Linked DNA regions of Homo sapiens: region 2 is linked to region 1. The links come from fine-mapping of genetic effects on plasma protein levels. A gene starts in region 1. The other region holds a variant in brackets. All regions are shown on one strand. Distances are between the middles of the regions. Region 1 holds the start of CEL (carboxyl ester lipase). Region 2 has its middle 20 kb from the start of GBGT1.

Region 1 (8,000 bases):
ACCCGGCCAGACTGGTGTCTGGCCTAATGAGGGAGCCGGGGCTCCCCATTGCCACCCACAGTGCCCGGAATGGCCCTAGGAGGCCCTCTGAGGAGAGCTAGAGTCCCAGCAAAGGGTGCAGCTGACCCTAGCACTGGCTGTGACATGCTGCTTGGTGCTGCCTCTGGTCCTGAGGGGTTAGGGACATCCCCAAAGGGTATACCCTGGCTCTGCCACCCATGAACCAGCCCAGCATCCAGCCAGTGAGTGGGCACCCAATGCCTCTCAGGATGAGACCAGTAAATGCCGGAGGTGGAGCTGGGCAGCTGTGGAGCCCCAGGCCACAGGCCAGTCTCGCTTGGCTCTCATGACTGTGGTGGTGGAGATAGCGTGGGGAGCCTCGCCCATGGTCTCACGTGGCAAGAAGTGCCTTTAGCTCTGGATCCCAACCGTTTGGCACAGCTTTGGCCACAGCCAGGCCCCTCTGGAATTGTCCTTATTAAACCAGTTTCCCGAGAAGTCTTGGTTTCTTGGTGTGAATGTTGGCGCTGCAGGGGAGTCTTCTTATTGCCTTGGGGCTTGGGCCCCCTTTGTCCCTTCATATATTCCTTCATTCATTCCTTCATTCATTCAGTGACATGCTGGCAGTGCTGGCCTGTGCCCCCCTCACATGTGGTCGGGTTGGGTGAGGGCAGCTAGGAGGACTCCAGGCCTGGGGTCAGTTCTTCTCTAAATGAATACCTTCTTGACAAAGTCATGGGAAACGGGCCCTGCTGTCCTGTGGCTGCCCAGTGTGAAACTAGTGGGTCCTGAGCCCACCGAGCCTGCCTGCCTGGCCCCGCTCCCCATGTTGCCCTTGGCTGAGGCACCTCTTGTGTCTCCCCAAGTCGGCAGCAGCACTCCCTCCCAACCTGTGTGCGTGCCGAGTATTTGTTGAAGAAACAGTCAGTTGTCAGAGAATGGCCCTGTTCTGGATTGGCTGGTTGCTTCTGTGTGGTGCTGAACCTGCTCCTCTCTCCCCTGTATTTCCTGGGGACAGGTGGAGGCTCAGCCAGATTCGGGTTCAAGGTCTCTTCCTAGGCTGCGTCAGTCTGCATGCACGGGAGGTCTGCTTACTAGGATTGACCAGCAGGTTTAGGTGTTGTCAGCCTGATGTGTTGGTCTTTTATCTAACGGTTTTTGGGTTTCTGTGGTTTTTTGTTTCATTTGTGGGTCTTTTTTTTTTTTTTGAGATGGTCTTGCTTTGTCACCCAGGTTGGAGTGCAGTGATGCAATCAGGGCTCACTGCAGCCTCAACCTCCTGGGCTCGGGTGATCCTTCCACCTCAGCCTCCTGAGTAGCTGGAACTACAGGTTGTGTACCGCCATGCCCAGATAATTTTTGAATTTTTGTAGAGATGAGGTCTCACTAATGTTGTCCAGGCTGGGCTCAAGGGATCCTCCCGCCTCAGCCTTCCAAAGTACTGGGATTACAGGTGTGAGCCACTGCGTCCAGCCTATTTAATGGCTTTTGAATAGCCGTTGATAATTGCCTGGACCTACTACTTCCTTAAGGGTGCAAAATGGTGATTTTTTTGAATTATATCGTTCCCTCTGCATTTAGTAGCTGGAATCCTATAAAGGAATCTTCCTCATCGTCTGTTTGATTACCCTGAAATACTATTTTCACAGAAAAGAAGGGAAAATGCCTGTTATCACCTCTAACAGTTTTCAGAACAATGAGTTAGTGCCCTGGCAAGGGCCAGTGACAGGGCAGGAGGGGGTGGAGAGCGTGTTTCCTGGGCTGCCTGGTGAACTCTCACGTCTGTCAATTGCAGGCTTGCTTTTTCATGCCCAACTTGTCTATCTTTGCCCAGAGGCGGCCTCAGGTTGACCTCTGTAGTCCTTTGACACAAGCCTTGGGTCTTGGGCACCTTCCTTACTTACAGCTACCACGATGCTGCAGGCTCCAGCCCCTCCCTGGCATTTCCTGTTGCGGACCCGGCCCAACCATCTCCCCAGGGTGCACTCAGTCGGTGTGAATATGGTGTTTAGAGACCCCAGTCTGGTCACCAGGGGTGGGGCTTGCTCCTGGGATTTCGTTACTGCTAGGGCTTTGGAAGAGACAGAGCCAGGAAATAAGTTTTTTTTTTTTTTTTTTGCCAATTTTAAAAAAATAAAGTATGAGGCTGGGCACGGTGGCTCATGCCTGTAATCCCAGCACTTTGGGAGGCTGAGGCGGGCAGATCACTTGAGCTCAGGAGTTTGAGACCAGCCTGGCCAACATGGTGAAACCCAGTCTCTACTAAAAATACAAAAATCGGCTGGGTGTGATGGCGCACGCCTGTAATCCCAGCTACTTCAGAGGCTAAAGCAGGAGGATCCCTCGAACCCAGGAGTTCAAGACTGCAGTGAGCTATGATTGTGCCACTGCACTCTAGCCTGGGTGACAGAGACCCTGTCTCAAAAAAACAAACAAACAAAAAACCTCTGTGGACTCCGGGTGATAATGACATGTCAATGTGGATTCATCAGGTGTTAACAGCTGTACCCCCTGGTGGGGGATGTTGATAACGGGGGAGACTGGAGTGGGGCGAGGACATACGGGAAATCTCTGTAATCTTCCTCTAATTTTGCTGTGAACCTAAAGCTGCTCTAAAAATGTACATAGATATAAACTGGGGCCTTCCTTTCCCTCTGCCCTGCCCCAGCCCTCCCCCACCTCCTTCCTCTCCCTGCTGCCTCCCCTCTGCCCTCCCCTTTCCTCCTTAGCCACTGTAAATGACACTGCAGCAAAGGTCTGAGGCAAATGCCTTTGCCCTGGGGCGCCCCAGCCACCTGCAGGCCCCTTATTTCCTGTGGCCGAGCTCCTCCTCCCACCCTCCAGTCCTTTCCCCAGCCTCCCTCGCCCACTAGGCCTCCTGAATTGCTGGCACCGGCTGTGGTCGACAGACAGAGGGACAGACGTGGCTCTGCAGGTCCACTCGGTCCCTGGCACCGGCCGCAGGGGTGGCAGAACGGGAGTGTGGTTGGTGTGGGAAGCACAGGCCCCAGTGTCTCCTGGGGGACTGTTGGGTGGGAAGGCTCTGGCTGCCCTCACCCTGTTCCCATCACTGCAGAGGGCTGTGCGGTGGCTGGAGCTGCCACTGAGTGTCTCGGTGAGGGTGACCTCACACTGGCTGAGCTTAAAGGCCCCATCTGAAGACTTTGTTCGTGGTGTTCTTTCACTTCTCAGAGCCTTTCCTGGCTCCAGGATTAATACCTGTTCACAGAAAATACGAGTCGCCTCCTCCTCCACAACCTCACACGACCTTCTCCCTTCCCTCCCACTGGCCTCTTTCCCTCCCCTTCTGTCACTCTGCCTGGGCATGCCCCAGGGCCTCGGCTGGGCCCTTTGTTTCCACAGGGAAACCTACATGGTTGGGCTAGATGCCTCCGCACCCCCCCACCCACACCCCCTGAGCCTCTAGTCCTCCCTCCCAGGACACATCAGGCTGGATGGTGACACTTCCACACCCTTGAGTGGGACTGCCTTGTGCTGCTCTGGGATTCGCACCCAGCTTGGACTACCCGCTCCACGGGCCCCAGGAAAAGCTCGTACAGATAAGGTCAGCCACATGAGTGGAGGGCCTGCAGCATGCTGCCCTTTCTGTCCCAGAAGTCACGTGCTCGGTCCCCTCTGAAGCCCCTTTGGGGACCTAGGGGACAAGCAGGGCATGGAGACATGGAGACAAAGTATGCCCTTTTCTCTGACAGTGACACCAAGCCCTGTGAACAAACCAGAAGGCAGGGCACTGTGCACCCTGCCCGGCCCCACCATCCCCCTTACCACCCGCCACCTTGCCACCTGCCTCTGCTCCCAGGTAAGTGGTAACCTGCACAGGTGCACTGTGGGTTTGGGGAAAACTGGATCTCCCTGCACCTGAGGGGGTAGAGGGGAGGGAGTGCCTGAGAGCTCATGAACAAGCATGTGACCTTGGATCCAGCTCCATAAATACCCGAGGCCCAGGGGGAGGGCCACCCAGAGGCTGATGCTCACCATGGGGCGCCTGCAACTGGTTGTGTTGGGCCTCACCTGCTGCTGGGCAGTGGCGAGTGCCGCGAAGGTAAGAGCCCAGCAGAGGGGCAGGTCCTGCTGCTCTCTCGCTCAATCAGATCTGGAAACTTCGGGCCAGGCTGAGAAAGAGCCCAGCACAGCCCCGCAGCAGATCCCGGGCACTCACGCTCATTTCTATGGGGACAGGTGCCAGGTAGAACACAGGATGCCCAATTCCATTTGAATTTCAGATAAACTGCCAAGAACTGCTGTGTAAGTATGTCCCATGCAATATTTGAAACAAATTTCTATGGGCCGGGCGCAGTGGCTCACACCTGCAATCCCACCAGTTTGGGAGGCCGAGGTGGGTGGATCACTTGAGGTCAGGAGTTGGAGACCAGCCTGGCCAACATGGTGAAACCCCGTCTCTACTAAAAATACAAATATTAATCGGGCGTGGTGGTGGGTGCCTGTAATCCCAGCTACTCGGGAGGCTGAGGCAGGAGAACCGCTTGAAGCTGGGAGGTGGAGATTGCGGTGAGCTGAGATCACGCTACTGCACTCCAGCCTGGGTGACAGGGCGAGACTCTGTCTCAAAAAATAGAAAAAGAAAAAAATGAAACATACTAAAAAACAATTCACTGTTTACCTGAAATTCAAATGTAACTGGGCCTCTTGAATTTACATTTGCTAATCCTGGTGATTCCACCTCTCTGTTGTTCCCATTTTACAGAAGGGGAAACGGGCCCAGGGGCAGGGAGTGTGGAGAGCAGGCAGACGGGTGGAGAGAAGCAGGCAGGCAGTTTGCCCAGCATGGCACAGCTGCTGCCTCCTATTCCTGTGCAGGAAGCTGAAAGCCGAGCTACTCCACACCCGGGTCCGGGTCCCTCCAGAAAGAGAGCCGGCAGGCAGGAGCTCTCTCGAGGCATCCATAAATTCTACCCTCTCTGCCTGTGAAGGAGAAGCCACAGAAACCCCAAGCCCCACAGGAAGCCGGTGTCGGTGCCCGGCCCAGTCCCTGCCCCCAGCAGGAGTCACACAGGGGACCCCAGATCCCAACCACGCTGTTCTGCCGCCTGCGGTGTCTCAGGCCCTGGGGACTCCTGTCTCCACCTCTGCTGCCTGCTCTCCACACTCCCTGGCCCTGGGACCGGGAGGTTTGGGCAGTGGTCCTGGGCTCCTGACTCAAAGGAGAGGTCACCTTCTTCTTGGGCGAGCTCTTCTTGGGGTGCTGAGAGGCCTTCGGCAGGTCATCACGACCCCTCCCCATTTCCCCACCCTGAGGCCCTCTGGCCAGTCTCAATTGCACAGGGATCACGCCACTGGCACAAGGAGACACAGATGCCTCGCAGGGGATGCCCACGATGCCTGCATGTGTTGCTTCTGGTTCCTTTCCTCCAGTTCCAACCGCCGCACTCTCCCACACCAGTGTGACAGGGGGCCCATCACCCTAGACTTCAGAGGGCTGCTGGGACCCTGGCTGGGCCTGGGGGTGTAGGGCCACCCTGCCCTTCCCCACCTGGAACCTGGCACAGGTGACAGCCAGCAAGCAATGACCTGGTCCCACCATGCACCACGGGAAGAGGGAGCTGCTGCCCAAGATGGACAGGAGGTGGCACTGGGGCAGACAGCTGCTTCTCAACAGGGTGACTTCAAGCCCAAAAGCTGCCCAGCCTCAGTTCCGTCAGGGACAGAGGGTGGATGAGCACCAACCTCCAGGCCCCTCGTGGGGGTGGACAGCTTGGTGCACAGAGGCCATTTTCATGGCACAGGGAAGCGTGGCGGGGGTGGGAGGTGTGGTCCCTAGGGGGTTCTTTACCAGCAGGGGGCTCAGGAACTGTGGGGACTTGGGCATGGGGCCATCGACTTTGTGCCCAGCCAGCTAGGCCCTGTGCAGGGAGATGGGAGGAGGGAAAAGCAGGCCCCACCCCTCAGAAAGGAGGAAGGTTGGTGTGAAACATCCCGGGTACACTGAGCATTGGGTACACTCCTCCCGGGAGCTGGACAGGCCTCCCATGTGATGGCAAACAGGCCGACAGGAGACACGGCTGTTGCTCGTCTTCCACATGGGGAAACTGAGGATCGGAGTCAAAGCTGGGCGGCCATAGCCAGAACCCAAACCTCCATCCCACCTCTTGGCCGGCTTCCCTAGTGGGAACACTGGTTGAACCAGTTTCCTCTAAGATTCTGGGAGCAGGACACCCCCAGGGATAAGGAGAGGAACAGGAATCCTAAAGCCCTGAGCATTGCAGGGCAGGGGGTGCTGCCTGGGTCTCCTGTGCAGAGCTGTCCTGCTTTGAAGCTGTCTTTGCCTCTGGGCACGCGGAGTCGGCTTGCCTTGCCCCCTCCGGATTCAGGCCGATGGGGCTTGAGCCCCCCTGACCCTGCCCGTGTCTCCCTCGCAGCTGGGCGCCGTGTACACAGAAGGTGGGTTCGTGGAAGGCGTCAATAAGAAGCTCGGCCTCCTGGGTGACTCTGTGGACATCTTCAAGGGCATCCCCTTCGCAGCTCCCACCAAGGCCCTGGAAAATCCTCAGCCACATCCTGGCTGGCAAGGTGGGAGTGGGTGGTGCCGGACTGGCCCTGCGGCGGGGCGGGTGAGGGCGGCTGCCTTCCTCATGCCAACTCCTGCCACCTGCAGGGACCCTGAAGGCCAAGAACTTCAAGAAGAGATGCCTGCAGGCCACCATCACCCAGGACAGCACCTACGGGGATGAAGACTGCCTGTACCTCAACATTTGGGTGCCCCAGGGCAGGAAGCAAGGTCTGCCTCCCCTCTACTCCCCAAGGGACCCTCCCATGCAGCCACTGCCCCGGGTCTACTCCTGGCTTGAGTCTGGGGGCTGCAAAGCTGAACTTCCATGAAATCCCACAGAGGCGGGGAGGGGAGCGCCCACTGCCGTTGCCCAGCCTGGGGCAGGGCAGCGCCTTGGAGCACCTCCCTGTCTTGGCCCCAGGCACCTGCTGCACAGGGACAGGGGACCGGCTGGAGACAGGGCCAGGCGGGGCGTCTGGGGTCACCAGCCGCTCCCCCATCTCAGTCTCCCGGGACCTGCCCGTTATGATCTGGATCTATGGAGGCGCCTTCCTCATGGGGTCCGGCCATGGGGCCAACTTCCTCAACAACTACCTGTATGACGGCGAGGAGATCGCCACACGCGGAAACGTCATCGTGGTCACCTTCAACTACCGTGTCGGCCCCCTTGGGTTCCTCAGCACTGGGGACGCCAATCTGCCAGGTGCGTGGGTGCCTTCGGCCCTGAGGTGGGGCGACCAGCATGCTGAGCCCAGCAGGGAGATTTTCCTCAGCACCCCTCACCCCAAACAACCAGTGGCGGTTCACAGAAAGACCCGGAAGCTGGAGTAGAATCATGAGATGCAGGAGGCCCTTGGTAGCTGTAGTAAAATAAAAGATGCTGCAGAGGCCGGGAGAGATGGCTCACGCCTGTAATCCCAGCACTTTAGGAGGCCCACACAGGTGGGTCACTTGAGCGCAGAAGTTCAAGACCAGCCTGAAAATCACTGGGAGACCCCCATCTCTACACAAAAATTAAAAATTAGCTGGGGACTGGGCGCGGCGGCTCACCCCTGTAATCCCAGCACGTTGGGAGCCCAAGGTGGGTAGATCACCTGAGGTCAGGAGTTTGAGACCAGCCTGACTAAAATGGAGAAACCTCTTCTCTACTAAAAATACAAAATTAGCCAGGCGTGGTGGCGCTTGCCTGTAATCCCAGCTACTCGGGAGGCTGAGGCAGGAGAATCGCTTGAACTCAGGAGGCGGAGGTTGCGGTGAGCCGAGATCATGCCACTGCACTCCAGCCTGGAGAACAAGAGTAAAACTCTGTCTCAAAAAAAAAAAAAAAAAAAAAAATAGCCAGGCGTGGTATCTCATGCCTCTGTCCTCAGCTACCTGGGAGGCAGAGGTGGAAGGATCGCTTGAGCCCAGGGGTTCAAAGCTGCAGTGAGCCGTGGTCGTGCCACTGCACTCCAGCCTGGGCGACAGAGTG
Region 2 (8,512 bases), 82 kb after region 1:
CAGGTGGACTGCTTCACCCTTGAACTCCAGTCCTGTCAACTGGGCAGCAGGGCCTGGAACTTGGCCTCAGGGAAGAAGGGGGTCGGGGGAGAGTGGGATGCGTGGCCTGGGCAACTTACTCGCCTCCTCGGGGCCGTAGTTCCCCTACCTGAAAAAAACCTGTGGATTCAACTTAGGGCCTGCAAGTGTCCCTGCCCTCCACCCACACCCTGGCTCCCCAAGGGCAGCGGGAGCTGGTGGGCCATCGGCCATCTCCCTTCTGCGAAGCGGAGCAGACATTGGCTGCCATCTGCGGAGGGCCTGCCCATGCGGTGCCAGGGGCCTCAGGAACATCTCATACTCCCCCACATCCGTAGGCCCACAGAGGAGGCAATGGGGGTACAGAGGAGTTAAGGAACCCACTTGTCTGGGTCCCCTGAGGCCAAGCCAGGGCTCCCATCCCACCTCCCAGGCTTCTCTCCCCTTGACCTCTAGACAGCCCGAACTTCCCTGCGGCTGCTGTTCCTGGTGAACATCGTGACAGATGACAGCACTAGTCAGGTGATTAATCAGCTGATCACTTGATCATCGGGACAGATAAGTGCTGCTGCAGCTATAGCCCAGCAGGGGTGGGGTGGGGTGGGGTGGGAGCGGGAATCCCTTTGGAATGGATTCAGGTCAGGTGGTGGCAGCCCCCAGGACTTAAATACCTTCTGCCACCCTCCCCATGGTCCCACCCTCCCCACGGTCCCACCCTCCCAGTTTTGAACTTACATTACAGGCAAAGGGCACCCCCCCACACACACATCTGGGATCAGGACAAAGTCCCAAGAGGGGCGGGTGCCAGAGGTGGGGGAAGTTCCTGGACTCAGGGCCTCTGGTTGGCCAAGGGTGCTTTCTTCTTTCTCTCCACTGGACAAGCCCACCCCTCCCTGCCTTCCTCCCTCGGAACACAAAGGTCAGATGGGCACACCTGACCTCTCGGGTGGTGTCCAGCAGAGAGGTCCTGCACCCTTCCCATGGGAGCCCTTTCTGGACCCTAACCTAGAAAGAGGGAAGGACTGGGGTGCCCTCCAGCAGGCAGTGGGTCCCGGCCCCCCTTATCCTTCCCAGAAGGACTGGGCAGCTCAATTCAGTTAATTATGTGCCCACCATGCAGTGCAGGGAGGGGAGGCCAACGTGGGGGAGGGGGTGGGGAAGGTCCTTAGTGCAGCACCCACGCAGGGTGGGTGGGGCTGTGTGCCTGAATCTTCCCTCCCACCAACTGGCTTCCTGCAGCCTGTTCCTTGGTGCTGGGCTGGGGGCTCGCCTCATCCGCCCGCCTTCTTGGCGTGGCATCCGGCAAGAACGTGGGCCGGGGCTGCACGCACCTTGGGCTGTGGGCCGGCAGCTCCCCGCCACTGTCTGTGCTGCCCTCTGCCCTGCCCCTCCTCCTGTGGCACTCCAGCTGGGGGTGGCTGGGCAGAGTCCCCATGGGATCACCCTGAGCCCAGCCGACGACCCCCAAGTGAACATACGAGCCCAGTACCCAACTCCGGAGGTGGGCACACCCCTTGCCCATTTGACAGATGGGGCAAGGGAGGCTCAGAGGGGTGAAATCATGACCCAGGGTCACACAGTGAGCAAATGACCAGGGTCAGACTGGCATCCTGGCTCCATGAGAGCACCGGGAGTTCCTGCAGAGTTGTCACCAACAGTCCTACCCTCACTGCCATCCCCAGAGAGAACATCTGAGGCAACCAGGTCTCATAGCCTTCCCATCCCCAAAGTCCAACCCACTGGGCAGTGTGGCCCCACCTGCCTTTTCCCACCATTCTACTGCCCCACCCTCTCCCAGGGTCTGGGGCTCCACCTCGCTCCTTCCAGGCTGGACACCCCTCATCCATGTTCTCACCTCGGCTCCCGCAGTGCCCAAGTCTGGGTGCAGGGTGGGTGCCCACAAACTAAGGCAGCCCCTATGGGAGCCCAAGGGCAGGGCTTTCTTACACCCTCACAGCAACTGCGGGGACCTCAGGGCAGACAGGGAGGCTCAGAGGGGACCTGTGCTGCTTCTAGGATGCCCAGCAATAAGCGCTGAGCTGGAATTTGGACCCAGGTGTCCTGCTCCAAAGCCACCTGCCTCACCTGAGGACCAGGGGCCTGATGGCCGAGGTGGATGCCGACATGTGAGGAGGAAGGGCAGTGGCGGCCTGGTCCTGGTCCCCTCACTCTCCTGCCCCAAGGCCCCAGTAGGTGACATAATTCACAGGGCAATGTTTATGCACTGAACGGTAAACACACAGGCAGAGGGGTAGATGGGCCACCAATGGGGAAACTGAGGCCAGCGAGAAGGGACACACTAAGGTCACATAGTCAGTCGGTATCAAAGTTGGCCCAGAACCACAGTCCCCTGTTCCAAGGGCTGTACCCAGCCCAACCACAACCTGGCATGCCATCCAGCCCCAGGCCAGGGAGCCCACGGCTGCAGGGCGGCAAAGCACACGGTACCACACGTGGTACCCCATGGCCCCACACACTCTGGCTGGCACCGAGCCATCGCTGTGCTTTCTGACCTTGCGTTTTCTGACATTCTGCCACTGTCAACTCTCACTCAGGTATCCAGGAAGCGGCCTCTGTTGCTAGGGGACTGGCTTGATGCCGGGTGGCTGGCAGAGTGGGGAGATGGGGAGGGGGGAGTGGACTGGGGTGTCCCTCAGGAAGGATCCAGGGGCAGAGTCTACTGGGTCCTGTGTCAGGGTGGAGGGCCATGAGAAGTATCTGAGGAAACTCAGCAGGTCAGGCCCCTTCCTCCCCAGGCTCTAATGAAGGTCCTGGACCCTGGTCTCTGCATTTTCTCTTTCAGCCTCAGAGTCTTCTTTTTGGGCCAGGGGTGGGTGTGCGCTGGTGGGGGTTGGAAGTGAGCCATCGGAAAGCCCATCGGAAAGCCCCAGCCCGGAGCCTTCCTGCAGGCAAGTATTTTGGGGGCCAGCAGTTGCCAAGCAACTGCTCTGGGTTGCCACGGGAACACTCCCTTTTTTCTGGGGCTTGTCATTCTTAGGGGGATGCCACAATGCTTCCCGTTCCCTTTCCTCTCCACTTCCTCACCCTGGCTTGGCTGCCCTGGGAGGGGACACTGGGAGTCCATAAGCTCACACCCCACCCCTATGGGGGGGCCCACATACCCCTGGCCCTAAGACTCTTTGAGGCTCCAGAATCAAGAACCCCCAAAATGCAAAGCCCAGAGTCCAAGGCCTTCATTAGAGCAGGGAGACGATGAAAGGGGCTCATTAGCTCTGTTTATGTCTCCTTGCCGCCATTAACCACCACTTGGGGCCTAGGGCCTCCCAGCCCCGCCCTGCCCAGCAGCCGGGCCCAGCCCTGACCGTTGGAAGGCCACTGTAATTGGAAGGAATGTGGTCCTGGTGCCTGGCCCTTCCCAGGCTTGTGTGCACACGGGGAGGCGCCATTGCCAAGCTGCCACTACCTAGCTGTGGGAGTTCCTTCCCCTTCCAGTGCCTCAGTTTCCCCACCTGGAAGTGAGGATGGCAGTGGCACTTATCTTGCAGAGTGCTGAGCAGATACAAGGGACACTTTAGCACAAGGCCTACAGGCTGGCTGTCATCACCAGGCACCTCTGCAGCAGGGGACAGAGGGAAGGACTCTGTGGAGAATAGTCCTGTGGCTAGCGTGCAATGGTGACTGACCACGCCACTGATGGCAGAGTGGCCACTGAATCCAGGTCCCCAGGCTCGCAGCCCATGCCTTCTCCACAAGATCTGTCTGCCCCATACCCCTGAGCCTTCCACAGAAGCCAGGGTGCTTCCCACAGGCCAGGCACCCAGCGCCAGCCAGGTGTACAGAGGCCAGTATCTGCTGTGTGAATCAATCGCTGAACCAACTGTCAAGGACCAGCAGCCTCAGGGGCGGGCCTGGTAGCTCGGTGAGCGAGGAGGTGGTGGGAGGGCCTTGTGCGGGTAGGGAGGTGACAGTAAGAAATGGCCTCTTGCTGGATGCAGTGTCTCAAGCCTTTAATCCTAGCAGTTTGGGAGGCCGAGGCGGGGGGAATCCCTTGAGCCCAGGTGTTTGAGACCAGCCTGGGCAACATGGTGAAACTGTTTCTACAAAAAAAATCCAAAAATTAGCTGGGAGTGTTGGCGTGCACCTGCCGCCCCAGCTACTCTGGAGGTCTGAGCCCAGGAGGTCGAGGACGCAGTGAGCCGTGATCTGGCCCCTGCACTGCAGCCTGGGCCACAGAGCAAGACCCTGTCTCAATAATAATAATAATAATAATAATAATAATAATAACAACAACAACAACAATAATAATAA[T/C]AATAATAATAATAATAATAATAAAATAAAGGAATGGCTTCCACTCATTCCACTCCTGGGCCAGCGGCCCGCTGTGCACTCCGCTCCCTTTCGCTGATGCCATGTGAGCAGCTCCATGGCGGGGACCTGACCCCTGCTCCTCAGCCCCACACTGCCTCGCCCCTTTGTATATCAAAGGCGCCTCTGAGGGGCTGTGCTGACCCCCACCAGGAGCAGCAGGACCACCTCAGGCATCCCAGCTCCCCTGAGGCAGGGTCTGGGGCTGGGGTTGGGGGGAAGGACCCCTCAAGTCTCTATCTGCACAGACAGCCCACCCGTGCCCAGGGCTGCCTTCCGAGCACCCGCAGACCTGGGCCTGCAGTAACAGGAGAGCTATCTGCAAACCGCAGTGTCATCAGCCGCACGGCCTCTGGAGAGGCCTGAGAAAGGCCGGCTCAGCTTGCAGGCGAGGAACCAAACGAAAGGCAAACTCCTGGCCCCTGCAGCCTCGCAGGTCCCCTATCCCTCCTCCCTGCCTTCCTTTCCGCCCCGCTGACACCACGGTCTGCAAACCATGGTCCTCCTCGCCACCCCTGTCACCTCCTCCTCCGCCCCCCGCCGGCCTCCGACGCAAAGTCGCCACCCAGTCACCCCGCCTCGGCCCCGCCTGGTTTGATTTCCTCCCGTGTGTGTCACCCATGAGGTGGCCGTGCCCCTGGCCTGTTTACAGCTGTGCGCAAGCTCCTCGCGACCCGAAAGCGAGACCTTTGTCTGCGGCAGCTCCGCGCCGGGCTGGGCGGCCGCACGGGAGGGCACAGCGCCACCTGCTGGTGCTGCCGCCAGAGCGCGCCAAGCTGAGGAGCAGGCGGGCTCCGCTCACGCCCCCACACCCCCTGGCTGGGGGCTGGGTTCCTGCGATGTCTTCCGACTCCCCGCTGCTCCCCTAGTCCCCGTAGGCACGCGGGTACCCGGCCTTTGGGAGGGGGATCATTCCCAATACTCCTGTTACGGGTTGAACTGTGTCCCTGAACAAAAAGATCTCTGGTACCCGTGAATGAGATCTTATTTGGAAATAGGGTCTGTGCGGATAGAATCCGGATGAGGTCATACTGGATTAGGGTGGGCCTTAATCCAATGACTGCTATCCTTATGATAACAGGGAAAATTGGACAGACACGCACAGGCGGACAGACACGAACTGATGAAGGCACAGTTTGCAGTCACACGTCTACAAAACCAGGAACGAATGCCAAGGAAACTGGCAGCCACCAGAGGTTGGAAGATGCAAGGAAGTATCCTCTCCTAGAACCTTCAGAGACAGCATGGCCTTGCTGACCCCTGGATTTTGGACTTCTGGCCTTTAGAACTGTGAGAGAATACATTTCTGTTGTGTTGAGCCACCCAGCACTTTGTGACAGCAGCCCAGGAAGCTGACCCGATAGACACTGGTCCCAGTCATCACCCTCTGTGCCATCACCACACCTCCCCTCCACGAATCAACCACGACCACAGGACACCTCCTTCTGGAATCTCTCTGTGCCCACGCACTCCCCAGATGAGCACTTCCCCTTCCCCTGGCAACTCCCCGGATTCTTGTTACCCCCACCCCCCGCCCCGGCATGGCCTGGGCCCAGGAGACAGATACGAAATGAATGAGTGAATATCCACCTTTGCTACTTCGTCATATTCAGATGTTCGTAAAAATCTGTATGTTCGTCATATTCAGATGTTCGTAAAAATCAAGTGGCAGCAGTGCTGGGGGTTAAGGAAATGGGGAGAGTGATGGCAGATGTGTGAGGGGAGACAAGGGGCACTTCCAGGTACTCACAGCCACCCTGGGAGCTGGGACAGCCAACCAGTGTGTTCTCATGCTCCCAGCCCCTGAGGCTCAGAGAGGGGAAGCCATCTGGGTCACCAAGCTCCTGCCTCTTGCCAGTTCTGTGACCCCAAACTAGCCATTGTGCCTTTCAGGGCCTCCCCAGTCTCCTGACCTGCACAATGGGGATGGTTCTAACGTCTACTTCCTGGGGACATCACCACGCTAATGTGAGACAATACTACAAAACCTGTTAGCTGCCTCACAGACTTAGAGATGGAAGGATTAGGAAGGAAAAGGGCCTTCAGAGACTGCAGGGTCCTGCTGACCCCTGGATTTTGGACCTCTGGCCTTTACAACTGTGAGGAAAGAAACTTCTCACAGGGGCGAGACACAGCCCGGAATACAAGTCGGACAGGCTGGGCACTGGTGCTGTGATCTGGGGAAAGTCACTCCCTTCTTGGTCTGGTTTCCTCATTTGCACCATGAACGGGTTGAAAATGAAGCAAAAATCAGATATCGGCCCCCTGTGGCATATGGGAGCATCTTCCAATGGGAACACCTTCCAATGGCTCCCATGATGTTTGTTTGTTTGTTTGTTCGTTTGTTTATTGAGACAGGGTCTGGCTCCGTCGCCCAGGCTGGAGTGCAGTGGCATGATCTTGGCTCACTGCACTCATCACCTCCCAGGTTCAAGTGATTTTCCTGCCTCAGCCTCCGGAGTAGCTGGGATTATAGGCACCTGCCGAGACACCCAGCTAATTTTTGTATTTCTTTTTTGTAGAGACGGGGTTTCACCACGTTGGCCAGGCTGGTGTTGAACTCCTGACCTCAGGTGATCCACCCGCCTCGGCCTCCCAAAATGCTGAGATTACAGGTGTGAGCCACCGCGCCCAGCCTCCGTTATGTTTAGAATCAGGCCTGACTGCCTCCTCTCAGACACTGTCCCAGGCAGCCTCCACACTGGCCCCAGAGATCCCTGCCTCCTGGTACATAAGTTGCTGAGTGATCCCCTTCCTCCGAGGGTGATTGGATTTAGTGACTGGCTTCTCACCAACAGAACACAGCACAGGTGATGTGAGGTCACTTCCAAGATTTACAAAAAACTATGACTTCTGTCTTGCTTGTTTGCTCTTGTTTTCCTCCCCACCTTCACCCCTCACTCTGGGGAAGTGAGTTCTGATGCCGTGAGCTGCCTGCCCTACAGAGAGACCCACATGGCAGTGAACCAAGGGAGGGCCCCCACCAACAGTCACAGAAGAACTGATGCCCTCAGTCAAAACTGAATCCTGCCAATAACATGAGAATGGCCTGGGGGCGGGTCCTGCCCAGTCCAGCCATGGATGAGACCCCAGTCCCAGCCTCCCTTGAGACCTGGGGGCAGAGGCACCCAGCTGAGCTGCCCTGGATCTGGGTCCACAGAAACTGTGTGATGATCAATGTCTGTTGCTGGAAGCTGTACATTAGGGTAGTGTTGTCACATAGCTGTCCACAGGCCCCTGGGCTGCCCCTCCCACCCCCAGCTCACTTGGGCCACACTGGCCTCCTTTCTCACTCCTCTCTGGCCAAACTCATTTCTGCCTCCCAGCCCTGCCTGCTGAGCCTTCTCCATCACACTGTCCAGACTCGTGCAGGGCTGGCCCATGCTTTGTCTTCTGGTCACAGCACAGATGTCCCCTTAGCGAGACCTCTCAGATCCCCACCCAGCAGGCCCCAGCCCTCCATGGCAGCCCCGGCATTATTTTCGCTGCAGCACTGCTTTTTCCTTTCTGTGCCTGTTTGCTTTTGTGCCCTGTCCATCGCCCCCTCCAGACTGCCAGCTCTGGAGGGCAGGCCCCCCTGGGTCACTTTCAGAGCCACACCCAAGCCCAACGCTGCCCCCCCACAACCCAGGGTGAGTGCTTGGGCACACCTGCTGAAGGGAAAGAGGAAGCTCTTGGAGCCCCCTCCCGCCTCTGAGCAGCTAACATTGTGGAGAGGGATGCTAGTAATGGGGGGTGTGCATTGGGTAGAGGCCGGGGTCCCCCAGAGGGACCCTGCCGGGCTCTCCCTGACTCCAGTTGCTCCAATGAGTACAGTGGGCACTGCCTCCCCCTGGTGGCCGGCACTAGCACAGCAGCAGCAGCCTCAGGCAGAAAACCCAGAAAACAAAACACACACCTTTGTTTGGGTGTTGTCAAGGTAGCAGCTCTCCTGAGTCCCAGGGGGTCAAAGGAGCAGAACCTGCAGGCTCCAGGGGTAATTCAAGGCGCCTCAGAAGCTTCATTTGCTCCCCTCTTTCCCTCTGCTGGTCCTGGGGTGTCCAGTTCACTCGTGAGGCCTCCTCACTCCAACCAGGGCAACGGCTCTGGCCCCACTTCCAAATAAGAACCCTGAGGCTCCAACAAGGACAGTCTTGTCCCACAAGAGTTGTCCAGTGCTTGGCCACGC

What was found. PIP is the chance, under the fine-mapping model, that this variant and not a neighbour inherited with it causes the effect. Protein levels are from the aptamer-based SomaScan assay of Sun 2018.
Region 2: its variant is fine-mapped to the plasma level of the CEL protein (Sun 2018, PIP 0.95).

What each region holds. Positions count from the first base shown.
Region 1 is chr9:133,058,006-133,066,005 of GRCh38, forward strand. It overlaps CEL (carboxyl ester lipase), which reads left to right and starts at 3,976. Exons shown (of 11, transcript NM_001807.6): 1 at 3,976-4,063; 2 at 6,399-6,549; 3 at 6,635-6,757; 4 at 7,035-7,232. The coding sequence starts at 3,998. GTF3C5 (general transcription factor IIIC subunit 5) reads left to right here. Exons shown (of 11, transcript NM_012087.4): 11 at 1-498. It overlaps LOC124902325, which reads right to left and starts at 3,327. Exons shown (of 2, transcript XM_047424377.1): 1 at 2,744-3,327; 2 at 76-169. The coding sequence starts at 3,327. The coding sequence ends at 76. RefSeq lists enhancers at 2,187-2,938, 2,939-3,691.
Region 2 is chr9:133,139,511-133,148,022 of GRCh38, forward strand. It overlaps a transcript of RALGDS not described here. Among named protein-coding and RNA genes, the nearest start is that of GBGT1, 20 kb to the right of the region's middle. RefSeq lists enhancers at 2,799-3,078, 3,129-3,178, 3,578-3,707, 3,758-3,847, 4,300-4,859 and silencers at 5,006-5,105, 5,136-5,255. The variant T/C (reference allele first, on the strand shown) is at 4,288.